2 linked regions of the Homo sapiens genome follow. The protein of the gene in region 2 interacts with the protein of the main gene of each other region in a pairwise test. Each region holds a gene or a part of one and is shown on either strand. Other genes may lie near its edges. The genes, in order: SPRY4 and TESK1.

Region 1 (5,348 bases), on a different chromosome or scaffold from region 2:
AAAACAAAACAAAAAACAGAAGGAAGGTACATTAGAAGGTCATGAAATGGATGGAAGGCTTTCGAGGCTAAAAGGACTAGTTTTGTGCAATATGCACCAATCCTGTGAAAATACGGAAATGACCAAGGGCTTTTCTATTTAGTTCCTTGAAGCATGTATGTTGTGTGTTCATGTGTGTGAAAACCTGCTTTGGGGGCAATCGGGACATAAAGGGAGAGGAATGGACAGGTCAGATGACACTTTTCCCCCTCTACCTCTTCCCAGTTTTGGAGCTTTGCTGTCCATCTGCAGCACACTCCAGTTTAGGGGACAGCTTTCCCAGGAAGGAGGCTCTAGCAGCTCCTTGCAGTATTCCGCTTCATAATGAAGAGCAGCTTTCCTCCGATGGTTCTACGGTCGTCCTAGAGCTGGGAGAAGGGATTGCCCAGCCCAGGAAGCCCTATCTTCTCTTCCCCTTTCAGTGGCTGCTTATTCTCAAACTTGAGGCCTTGCTGGCTGAAGAGGTCAGGGAAGTAAACACACAAACACACCAGAAACGGCAGTCCCGTGTATATTTAACAATATATATTTATATATATTTTCTAAATCAGTACATTCAGTTTTTAACTTGTTTTTTTCTTCACAAACAGAAGAACTCTTACAATAGTAGACTTTCTAAAATAAATACTATTAAAATAGAGCTTCAAAATAAATATTCTATACAAAGAAAACCTGTGGCAACTTTGTGGTGGGGTGGAAATGGGCTACAGTGAGGGGGAAATGAAGTTGGGATGTGGCGGGGTGGGAGCCTCGAGCTTTTCTGTTTGTAACATGAAACCAAGCTGTGGGACAGTAAGAAGAGAAAGCAAGGCAAGACACTGCACGCAGTTACCCACAGCAGAAAATGGCAACGCAAGATTCATCATCGACTGTCACAGTAAGCAGAGGGGGCACAAAAATGCTTGTCAAAGGCATGAACCAGAAGGCTAGTGAGGCTCGCAGGATGCCCTAGTGAATCGTACAGTGTAGAGCTGTGCTGCCCACGCCCGCCAGACACTTCCTGGGACAGCACAGAAGGAGAACAGGATGCTTCAAGGTGACAGTCATCCGGGTTCTGGTGCAGATCAACTTTCCACGTGTGCCATCTTGGACAAGTCATTATCTAGCTGGGCCTCACTCGAGGTATGATGGCGACTGACAGGCTCCACAAGGCTGAAAAGAACTAGCCATGTCTTCCATCTCAGCTCTGAGGGGGTGCGTACCAAAGGACCAAAGGAAGGGATTGGTCTTCACCCCCTTCCTGCTCAGGAAAGCCTTAGTTGTGCCCAATCTTTTCTCTGGGAGGGCTTTGCTACCCAAGACCCAGTTCCCAGGGTGCTCGCGGAAGCGCTGTCCTTCATTAACACGGGCAGCCAGAGCCCCCTAGAAGCGTCCTGGATCCCAGGTGCCCCTCGAGTTAAGACAGAACCCCCACCTACCCCAGGTTTACCAGGGGCGGGAACTAACCAGCACTTTTCAAAAAAGGTCAAGCCGAGGCATCGTCCAGCCAAACAGGCCATTGGTGACAGGAAACACACTCAGCCAGAAGCAGCTACACATGTGTGTTGTGTCTCTGAGTGCTGGGTCCCTCAGTGGCTCTCGACTGGCCCCAGAGCCGGGGAGGGTCCACAGGCAAGCCAGTTTATCCTTCTGTTTGTTGTTGTTGTTGTTGTTGTTGTTGTTGTTTTAATTTTTGCCAAGAAGCTGAGAAAAACAATGCTGAGGGATTGCTACACAACCAAGCTGGGAGAACCAAGGATGGTTCCTTCGCTCCTTTCCCATGACCACTGAGCACACGAGGCACTGAGGTGGACTCTTAGAGAGCACTCTGCAGACATCCATCAAGCAGGTTGAAAGCAAACCAAGAAGAACAAGCTAGAACAGGGGCAGGGGGAAAAAAGGAAAAAGCAAACCAAAACCCAGAAAAATCCGTGTTTACAAGTATGTACACAAAAAGTCAGGGTTCAGGAGGCCGTTTGCCAGGAAATAGGGTCTTTGTCGGTAGACAGTCAGTGTGGGGTAGGGGTGTGTGTGTGTGTGTGTGTGTGTGTATACACAGCTTATGTAAATCGACTCTCCACAGAACGGGTGTGTAGACCACCAAGATCACCAAAGTGCAACTTGCCACTGGGTCAAGTTTCCCATGGAGACAATTTGAGGGAGGGGCCCTGGGAAGTTCTGAGGCCTCGCAGAAAGCGTGCAGATGTGCACTATCAATTTTGGGGCCCCCTCATCTGAGGAAAACCATCTCCAGTCCCTTCAGTACACTTCTGATACATTCAATTCATATAAGTGGTTGGCTGAATGTGTGTTTTTTTCTACCACTCCTTCTGAAATGTTCAAGAACATCCATACATCCGTCACAACTGTGGCAAGGGTAGCTACACGAATCAGCCTTGGAAAATGCAGATGCAATATTTCACATTCGCCTTTTACAAGCTAGCAAATGTTACATAAATAAAGCCGAAAATAATATGACCCTCCCTTCCTCCAATCAATAAATACCTATGGTTACAATCAACTTACTCTAAATCATAAGATGTTACTACTAGTCTTCAAGAAGGAAAAAATAAGTCCTTGAGAAGCATTAGGTGCCTATCATAGCTACCTACCTCGCTGCCTCCTTCCCGGAGGCACCTCTGTTCCTATACAGAACAAACTGGAAATGCTACGGACGCTCTGCCTCATGCACTTCCAGTTTCACCTGGGGTAGCTCTTCTGACTCAGGCCATGCCCTCTCATTAGAGGGGAAAACAAAATACCACACAAAGCAAGAACCCCACACAAAAGCTGGGGAGGAAGGACCAGATACACTACAGCTTTTGCATGCAACAAGTACCTACCCACTGGACGTGCTGCACCTTCTGAGTCCTTTAGCACCTTGAGAGAAAGAGTTGCTACGTCTTTGAGGGCTGTCGGGAGAGGGTGGTGTGGCTGTGCACAGAAGCAGGGCTCAAACCCAGTGGCCCCTGGAAAAACCTTTCCCCTACCCTCTCCCCAGCTCTTCCAAGCTCTTCCGACTCCCCTGCTGGGGCTTCCTAACACTAAAATAGACTCTTTTTTCATCATCTCTCTATTTACATTAAAGATACAGACACATCACTATACACAAAAGGCTATGACAGTGAGCAGCAGAATCAGAAGAGAAGAAACCCAAACCCAGCCTGGCTCAGCGGTCATTCTGCCAATGGGAGGTGCTGCCTCTCTTCTTTGCTGTTAAAATCCTCTTGTTGATAGGGAGGGAAATTGTGTTCCTTGAGGTTGCTCGCCCCCAGATTTTGAAATCAGCCCTTCCTGGGGGTGGCCAAAAGGAAACAAGTTGTTTTATTATTATTTTTTAAAACACCGTTAGCATCCGGTTTAATTATTCTATAAAAACATAATGACTGGATCCAGAGACCACAGCCTCAGACTCATTGGCAAAATGATATTTGGTCTCGCATTTGCCGCCCTGGCTTCCTCTACCCATATAAAGTTTCTGGAAGGGATCTGAGTAGAGAGAACCCAGGACACGTAGTGGGCAGGCGAGTCTGTGACTCAGTAAGAACCGAAGGACGGTGTGGTGAGCAGAACACCCCCGAGAGTTAGTTGATGCAGTTGGAAGGGAGAAGTGCACTGAGCAGTGGCTCCTAAATCCATCCTGTGGCTCCGGGGAGGCAGAAGGAGGAACGAGGCTTGGACTCACTGGCCGTCCTCTGTTCTCAGTGGCTCCCAAGTATATACAATAGGAACTGCTAGGGTGTTCTACACCTTCCCCAAGACATCAGGGACAAAGTGGGGTGGAGTGAGATGGGGAAGGAGAAGAAGGTATAGAAGACTCCAAGGGTCTTCTTTAAAGGTACCCTGGTACTCAGTTAACAATTCCTCCCAGGCAGCTAGCTCCTGTGAGAGCCAAAGACAATGGAAAAGAGGAAGGGGGGGGGGGCGGAGGGAGGGAGGGAGAAGGAGGGGCTGGGAAGGCATTCAAGCAGCTGCAGTTTCCGGATATGTGTCCACATCTGTGTTCTGTCTTCTGAAAAAGAAAAATTTCCCCCCAAACCACACCCTGCCCCTGCATTGTCTGTTTGACACAAAGTTTCAGGACCCTGAAAAAAAGCCCCAAAGTGCTTCTTCATCACCTTGGGGAATACAGGGTACGTGGTGGTGGTCTCTGTATTTTCCGAAGCTGGGGGTAGGGAGTGGGCAGACTAGCAAGGTCAGCCTCAGGAGGCTAAAACCTCTGACCTTGCTGCAGTCTTCTTAGATGTCAGAAGAGAACCAGGTTTCCAGGCAGAGCACTGGGGCTTCGACACAAACTGTCAGAAAGGCTTGTCGGGCCTGCTGGTCTTGGCATCCCCGCTGGCTGCTTTGCAGATGACGCTGTTCGTGTGCTTGCAGCGGCAACCAGGGCGGCGCAGACGGTCGTAGCCACGCTGGGCCAGCTTCACGCAGCCGGTGGCAGGCAGGTAGCAGAGCAGGCAGGGCAGCACCACGGAGAGAGCACCCATGAAGGACCAGCGGGCGCAGCAGTTGGAGCGGGAGCAGGAGCAGGGGTGGTCAGCGCAGGAGCCCTCATCGTCCTCATTCGTGCAGTGGTAGAAGATGCCCTGCACCAAACACATGCACGTGCCATAGTTGACCAGAGTCTGGGCTGAGCACAGGCACTCCTGGTTGCAGACCCAGCAGGAAGGCAACGTCCGGGGGGATGCACACTCCTTGCATTTACACTTCCCACAGGCCTCGCACAGCAAGAAGTGCTTGTCCAGCTCGGGTGGGACCGCCGGGCCCTTGAGGTCCAGCGGCTGGCAGTGGACCACCTTGGGCTGGATGCGCACAGCCCTTGGTGAGGCCTGGTCAGCCACGGGTGGTGGTGCCATGTGGTCTAAGAGCCGTTGGTCAGAGGATGTGCTGCTGCTGCTGCTCACAGAGCTGGGGCGCCCGCTGAAGGAGATCCAATGGTGGGTGACATCCTGGTCACAGCGGGCGGGCGTCGGGGCCAGCTCTGGGGCCCCGCCCCGGGTCCGCTTTGGGCCGGTGGTCAGGGCCAGGCTAGGGTTGTCTATGTAGTCATTCTCCACATGGCTGGTCTTCACCTGGTCAATGGGTAGGATGGTGAGTGGGTGCTGGAGCCGGCTGTGGGACATCCGGCTGTCAAGAAGGGGCTGGACCATGACTGAGTTGGGAGTCAAGGGGGCGCTCTGTGGGATCGGGGGCTCCATGGGGCTGGAGGTCCTGGACTGTACGGAGAAACAGGCTTCTAGGGGCCCTGGGGGTGGGGTGGGGAAAAGGAAGAGAGAATGGATTCCAGGCATCAGTATGTGGCCTGCCAATACCTCACCCCCCATCAGGTC
Region 2 (7,255 bases):
GCTGGGTTCCAGCTGATGGGTAGAGACAGGAACGGCTTCACTCAGTGCTCCGAAAGAGGGTCTCTGAGTTTCCTCCCATCACCTGGGTCCCACAGGGCAGCCATGGCAGCTTACGGATGGGGGCAGGGTGGGGCAGGAAGGAGTGTGAGGCTCTTACGTTGCAGCAGTGGATGGCCAGGAGCAAGAAAGGCAGTGGGCAGTCATCCCCCACCAGAGTTCGGAAAGCAGGCACATCCAGGCCAAAGTCCTGTGGGGACAGAAGGAGGGACCTCCAAGTCAGCTTTTCTTGGGTTCTCCTTCTGCTCCCCAGTCAGAACCTCAACCTCTAGGGAATCCTCCTTGGTTATGAGCCAGCTAGTCTGGAATTCTTTCTTTGCAAACCTAGAAACATTCACCTCAGTGCGTGGTAGGTAGTCAGGGTCTGCAGGTACTCGGGCGATGAGCTCACAGAGGACAATCCCGAAGGCAAAGACATCAGCCTGGGGGTCAGAGATAATAGTGTCGGGGAAGAATTAACAGTTTTCATTTCAGAATTTTGACAGAATATAGCAGAATTTGGTTGAGGGTGGGGGATCTTGACAGTTTTCATGTGTTAGAAGGGTGCCTGTGAGGGGCAAAGGGATCTTGGGGACTCCTGAAGATCTGGTAGGGTTGTTTTGGGGATGGATGGGGCTTTATGAGAATACCTCAAGGGTCTCGGAAGGCCTTGGGGATCTGAAGGGTTGATGTCTCACCTTCTCATCATACAGCTCACCCCGTAACACCTCTGGAGCCATCCAGTATGGGGAGCCCACCACGGCCAATGGCTCCTTCCTTGCCCCCTCCCTGCAGGGGCAGGGGCAGAGTGGTCAGAAGCATCCTATTCAGGCATCCCCCCCAGGCAAAAGGGGATGAGGTGAACTCCCTCCGTTCCCCAAGGGAAACATCCCTGGGGCTCTGGGGACATCAGATAGGGGCACTCTGGGAGATTTGGGGGGAACAGGGACATTCATCTCACCTATACACAGGAATCTTTTCGGCCAGCCCGAAGTCACCCACGACAGCGGTGAAGCCTCGATCTTCCCGTCGGACTAGACAGTTCTGACACACACACACATAGTATCCCCACGCACTCATCACCTTCTGCTGTCTGGCCTCCCAATGTATAACCCAAAGCCCTGTCACTCCAGCATAACTCCAACCCTCTCTGCTCTCCCAGTTTTTCAAGGCACTTCAATATTGCAACATCATCCAACACTCCAAACACAGGGTGCTACTCAGTCCCTCCGAGCACTCCCCTCACCCTGGTCCCCCAATATTCTCCAATGCCTTGCCACTCCAACATCCTAATATATCTGTTATCCATATTCCAACATCCACAGGCCAGTTACAACCTAATAGCCTCAAACCCTCTTTCATGTCTCCACCCACCCTGCTAGCCTACCTTGGATGTGAGGTCGCGGTGAAATACACCTTTGGAGTGCAGGTACCGCAGGCCTCGGGCAATGTCCAGGGCCAGGTGGAGCCTGACCGGCCAGGACAGGGGTTCAGGGGAGCTGAGCAGCTGTTCCAATGTCCCCCCATTCATATACTGGTGCATAGGAGGAGAATGGGAATAGATGTCAGACTTCAGTCTGTATTCTAGGTCCCCCACTTACACGCTAGGGGACACTCCCGAGGATCACAGAGGTCATAGGGGTAAGACTGTGCTGTAGGACCCCCCCCATCCATGTTCTAGGATTGCCCCGTTCAACTCAATAGCCATTAGCCATGTGCAACAATTTAAATAATTTAAAAAATTTTTTAATCAAGTTGACCCACAAAAAATAATCTAAACAATGAAAATAATTTAAATTTAACCACATGTGGCTAGTGGCTACTGTATTGGACAGCACAGATAGAGAACATTTCCGTCACTGAAGAAAATTCTATTGGACAGCACTGTTCTAGGGGATACAGAGAATAAGACCAGTTGAGGCCTTTTATATGTGGTTTGCCTAAAGGAAAGTTCAGGAAAGCCTCCCCTGAGAGGAGATCCTGTTGCCTCTCACTAGTCCTCCGTAGATCCACCAGGCCTGTTGACTCCCTTTATCCTTGGGGGTGAAGGGGGGTGGGGATCCCTCCTTCCTGGCCTATCCTCACCTCTGTAAGAGCGTGCAGCTGTCCCTGGTGCACACAGACTCCCATGAACCTGCAAGAGGATGGGGAAGATAGAAGGATAGGCTATTAAAGGCCTCAGCTCCTCCTCAGTTCCACTTTTCCCGCGGGATCTTTCCCTTTCTCTCCCGCCCAGCAAGCTGCCCAGAGACTGGGGCCGCTCACCTTAGGATGTTGGGGTGCCTGAGCCGGTTCATCAGCTGCACTTCCCGTAGTGTGTTGCCCCGGTTACTGGGGAGCTTGTTCATCTTCAGCACCATGACTTGCCCTGACTGTCGGTGCCGAACCTGGGGGCAGGAGCAGCCGGCGAGGGCCGGGCAGGTCGGGCGGGTCGCCGGAGTCTGGACCCTCTTCCCCGCACTCCCGGCCCCCTAGTTTCAGCCTCTGGTTGAAGGCTCGGTCCCGCCCCTCTGCCCTCTCGGCCGGTCCTACCTTGTAGACCTCAGAGAAGAAGCCGGCCCCGATCTTCTCCGCGCAGTGAAAATCGTCCACACGCGCCAGGCTAGACACGGCGCTGCGGAGAGCCCGGTAGGAGGAGGGGCGGCCCCGGCCCGGGCCTCCGCCCGTGCCCCCCGGCCCCGGGGGCCCCTCCCCCGGCACCTCTCCAGGCCCGGGCCCAGGGCCCCGCAGTGGGGGCCGTTCCCCGGCCATGGCCGGGCCCCCAGCCCGGGCCTGCCTCACATGGCAGGGTCCCCAGGGCCCGGGCAGGCCGCGCTTGCCATGGGCGCGGGCCCAGCCCGATCCCGGGCGCCCGGACTCCGGCTCCCGCCCTGAGAATGGAAGATCCGCCGAAGATCCTGGACCCGCCCCCGCCGCGCCGGCTGGCTGGGCCCGGGTGGACGCCGCGCCGCTCCGCTCCGCGCAGGGCCTGGGCTTGGGCCTGGACCGGGCGGTGGCGGTGACGGTGGCGGCAGCGCTCCGGGGCGCCGGCGGGCTGGCTTGCCGCGGGCGGAGGCGGGCGGGCGGGCGGGCGGCGGCTGCTCCGCTTAGCCGCCGGGGATCAGGCTCCGCGGCCTGCCGGGGGCGGGGCTGGGCCGGGCCTCCGCTTAACTCCTTCCAGCCCGGCCTCCCGGCAGCGGCCACGCCCCCTCAGGTGCGCACCCCCGCCTCCCCGCTTTCCGGCCGCGATGCCCTGGGCCGCCCGGGTCAAATAAGCTCCGGCCTGAGCTTGAATAACGGGAGGGAATTAAGGGCTGATGGTGCGCATGCGAAGCTTAGCTGCCCAGGGAGTCCCCTCTCCTCCCTGGGTTACTGTCCGTTGAGGGTCGGGCTCAGAAACCTGCCGGATTCCTGGGCTCCAGGGACCAACGGGGCAGAAAGGTAGGCCCCTCAGGCCCAGCCGCAATCAGAGGTAGCCTAGCAACCTGTCCACCTTCCTGGCCTGCGCCCCGGCCCAGCCTGCCCATTTCCCAGGTCTCTTCGACTCCGACACCTTGAACCTCTGGCCTCCCTAACACCTTCTACCTTCACGGGAGGTTGTGATACCCCGGGGCTATAGGAAGCCTTTGGCCGGCCCATACCCAGCTTAGCCCCGACTCCTCCTCACTTCATCCTGCCGCCTCCCAATAAAGAAGAGAGTCCAGGTCCTCCGCCCTGTGACCACCCAGCCGGGACCTCCCTCTTACTACTTTGCCCAAAAGACTCTAAGAGAGAAGCCTCCACCTGCAGGGAAGCCCGTCCTTCCGCAAGATCCCACCCCCCTCAAAGAACGCTGTCCCTCGGAGACCCCTCCCTTCCTCAGTGAGACACCTCCCTTTCGGGGGCACTTTTCCCCAGTGTGGCACTGCCACCGTCAGTGTGTCAGAACCCCTCAGTGCTGCACCCCCTTGCTCTGTGTTCCTCCCACGCAGTGAGACCCCACCTCCGAGGAAATCCACTAGTCATTGTGACCCCTCCTCTCAAGGTGACTCCTCCCCTCAGTGTGACCCAGCCCTCCTCAGTGTGAGGGTTCCGCCCTCCACGTAGGAACACGGTCTGCCCCCTAAGGCCGGAGGAGGGGCTGCAACTGGCCTCTTTAAGTCGGCGCGGTGCCTGGGTGCGCACGCAGTCTCAGGACTCCGTGCACTCGCCGTACCAGACGCTTCCGGTTCTGCCGCTGGTTCCTCCTCCGGCCTCGGCGAAATAGCCAATCATCGCTAGGGTTGGGTGGTGACACGCGATCCCGGCGGTCCACTCCGGGGCAAACGGTTTAAAAGGGCGTCGTTGAGCCGCCTGCCACCTAGCGGCGGAACGGTGGGCGGAGGGAGAGAAAGCTGCCGTCTCGAGTGCGGAGGCAGGCTGAGAGCTCCTCGAGGAAGCGAGGCTGAGTCCTGCAGGAATTCTCAAGTACTGTATTGATATTTCTGTAGTAAGCTTAAAAGAGAATTAATACAAGCACAGTCCGTATCGCGTGGGGTTACCGTCTTCCAATGGAGTCTGGTTACACGTTTATGAGACTTGGAGCCAAGAAATACTACTCGCTTGTCGAGGGCTACTGAGAAAAGAATAAAGACGGTCATAAATGATACATGATGCCTTAGAGTCAAGAGAAGGCCAGATGCTGTCTTGGTGCGCTGTACAAGGGAAGGTATTGCACAAGTTTGGAGCGAGAGGAATGGGAGACATTCGCAATCCTTCCACAGCCGGTGGAGGCAGGCCAACCTCACAGAATTGCACGGGGCACGTGCATCCTGTTCTTTTTTCTGGAGGCGTTTGGTCTTCAGCACACGCTCATTCATCACATTAATGTTAACATCTACAACTAATTTGTGAATTTGCTTTTTATTGTATGACATCTGTAAACACTAGGAATTTATGCCTCATTTTGTTTAATATCATAGATCTTTTAACCGACACTGGGTTCTGGCCCTTTATCACGTTTGAGAATTACTGTAGTAGTTGGTGATGGTAATGCCAAGCCAAAGAGCCAGGTGCCTATTTTTTGTAAGATGATTGCGGTGGTTGTATGGAGGCCGGGAGACTGATTAGGAAGGAGGCTGTGACTGTGGTTCAATCAGGAAAGGATGAGACCAGCCTGGCCAACGTAGTGAAACCCCGTCTCTACTAAAAATACAAAAAAATTAGCCTGATGTGGCGAGCGCCTGTAATTCCAGCTACTCTGGAATCTGAGGCAGGTGAATCGCTTGAACCCGGGAGGCGGAGGTTGCAGTGAGCCAAGATCGCGCCATTACACTCCTGTCTAGGCGACAAGAGCGGGACTCTGTCTCAAAAAAACCTTTTGTTGTTGTTTGTATGGTGGAAAATGTCTTAACACACACACACAGAATAGAAAAATGAATGTTTATTTACCTTGGATTAGTAAGACCATTTTGTTGGAAACCCATAGTGCAAAATTGGCTTTCCTTTGCCTCAGTTGTACTGTTGCCATATTTGACCTGGCCCAGGTGAAAGTACCTACTTTCATTTACCCTTCTATGTCAGTGATTCTCCAATGAGCAATTCATGGCCAATCTTGTTTCATCTATACCCGTGCCCTCTTCCCCACTCCATATTTGTGTATATTTCTGACATATCATTTCATCCTGTAAATGTTTCAGTACGTTATCTCTAAATGATAAGGATTCTTCTTTAAAACCAAATCACAGTATTGTCACACCAAAAAAAAACAATAGTTCCTTCATGTCATCAAGCATCCAGTTGTTTACATTTCCCTCACTGTCTTACGTTTGATTTTTAAAAATTGTTTATTTGAATCAAAATCTAAATTAGGTCTGTACTTTGCAGGTGATATGTCTGTCTGTCTGTCTCTCTTTTTGTGAGACAGGGTCTGGCTCTATCACCCAGGATGGAGTGCAGTGGGTTGATCTCGGCTCACAGCAACCTCCACCCCCGAGGCTCAAGCAATCCTGCCTCAGCCTTCTGAGTGGCTGGGACTACTGAGGTGTGGGTACCACCACACCTGTCTAATTTTTGTATTTTTGTAGAGATGGGGTTTGCCACGTTGCCCAGGCTGGTCTCAACTCCTGGGCTCAAGCATTCCATTCGCCTTGGCCTCCCAAAGTGCTGGGATTATAGGTGTGAGCCACCACACCCAGCCATATGTTTCTTAAGTCTTTGCAGATCTATGCTTATTCTCCATCTTTTTTCTTACTATTTTTTAAAACTGGTTCATTTGTCCTGTAGAGTTTCTTAGAGTCTTGATTTCTGTGGTAATTTAGCATGTTCCTCCATCCTCTGTATTTGATATAAATTGGTAACTTAATCAAATTTAGATTTCTTTTGGCAAAACTAATTTGTAGATGGTTTTAGCACTTCTATCAGGAGGTATACAGGAGGTATACAGTGGTGGTCTTTTTGTGATTTTAATAACTGATATTTGTTTCTCAACCGTGGCACTATTGACATTTTGGGCTGGAAAATTCTTTATTGTAGGGGCTGTCCTGTGTATTGTAGGATGCTTAGCAGCATCTCTGGCCTCTACCTAATGGATGCCAGTAGCACCTCCTCCTGACTGTAACAATAAAAAAATGTGTCTAGACATTGCCATTTGTCCTCTGGGGGACAAAATTGACCCTGAATAAGAACCACTGGTCTAGGTTCATTAATAGAGGAGTTAAAGCTGGGCATGGTGGCACGCGACTATAGTCCCAACTACATGGGAAGTTGAGCCGAGAGGGTTGCTTGAGCCCAGGAGTTCGAGTCCAGCCTGGGCATCATAGCAAGACCCTGTCTCAAAATAAATAAAAAGTTAGAAAATAATATTATCATTCCTTCTTTGAATGAATTCCTATAGAAGTATTAGGTAGAATAATTCTATAAGGAGAAACTTTTCCACATTAACTATTTGTTACACAGAGATACATTTCCTAGGAAAGGCAGAATAAATACTTGATTGTTTCTCACTTATTTTACCAGCTTTCAAAGTAATGAGTTGGTTCCCCAGCATCTTCCAAAGTTGACCGATGAGGTTTTTTTTAAAGTACCATTATGAACTCATAATTTAACACATATGTGATATACTCAATTATTGCTAGTTATCTTTTTTTTCTTTTTGAGACGGGTCTCACTCTTTTTCAGGCTGGAGTGCAGTGGCACAAAGCTCACTGCAACCTTGACCTCCCGGGCTCAAGTGATTCTCTCATCTCAGCCTCCCAAGTAACTGGGACTACAAGCACGTGCC

What was found.
Region 1: the proteins of TESK1 (region 2) and SPRY4 interact in binary tests that used the Homo sapiens proteins (3 or more experiments, as listed by UniProt).

What each region holds. Positions count from the first base shown.
Region 1 is NC_000005.10:142,309,893-142,315,240, forward strand, and holds the end of SPRY4 (protein sprouty homolog 4), read right to left. Parts: intron 5,264-5,348; coding exon of another isoform or gene 5,217-5,263; coding exon 4,317-5,216; 3' UTR 538-4,316; downstream 1-537. UniProt on the Homo sapiens protein: Suppresses the insulin receptor and EGFR-transduced MAPK signaling pathway, but does not inhibit MAPK activation by a constitutively active mutant Ras. Probably impairs the formation of GTP-Ras.
Region 2 is NC_000009.12:35,601,152-35,608,406, reverse strand, and holds the start of TESK1 (dual specificity testis-specific protein kinase 1), read right to left. Parts: upstream 3,146-7,255; 5' UTR 2,788-3,145; coding exon 2,569-2,787; intron 2,424-2,568; coding exon 2,302-2,423; intron 2,171-2,301; coding exon 2,122-2,170; intron 1,571-2,121; coding exon 1,424-1,570; intron 1,081-1,423; coding exon 998-1,080; intron 826-997; coding exon 735-825; intron 480-734; coding exon 396-479; intron 314-395; exon of another isoform or gene 248-313; coding exon 158-247; intron 13-157; coding exon 1-12. UniProt on the Homo sapiens protein: Dual specificity protein kinase activity catalyzing autophosphorylation and phosphorylation of exogenous substrates on both serine/threonine and tyrosine residues.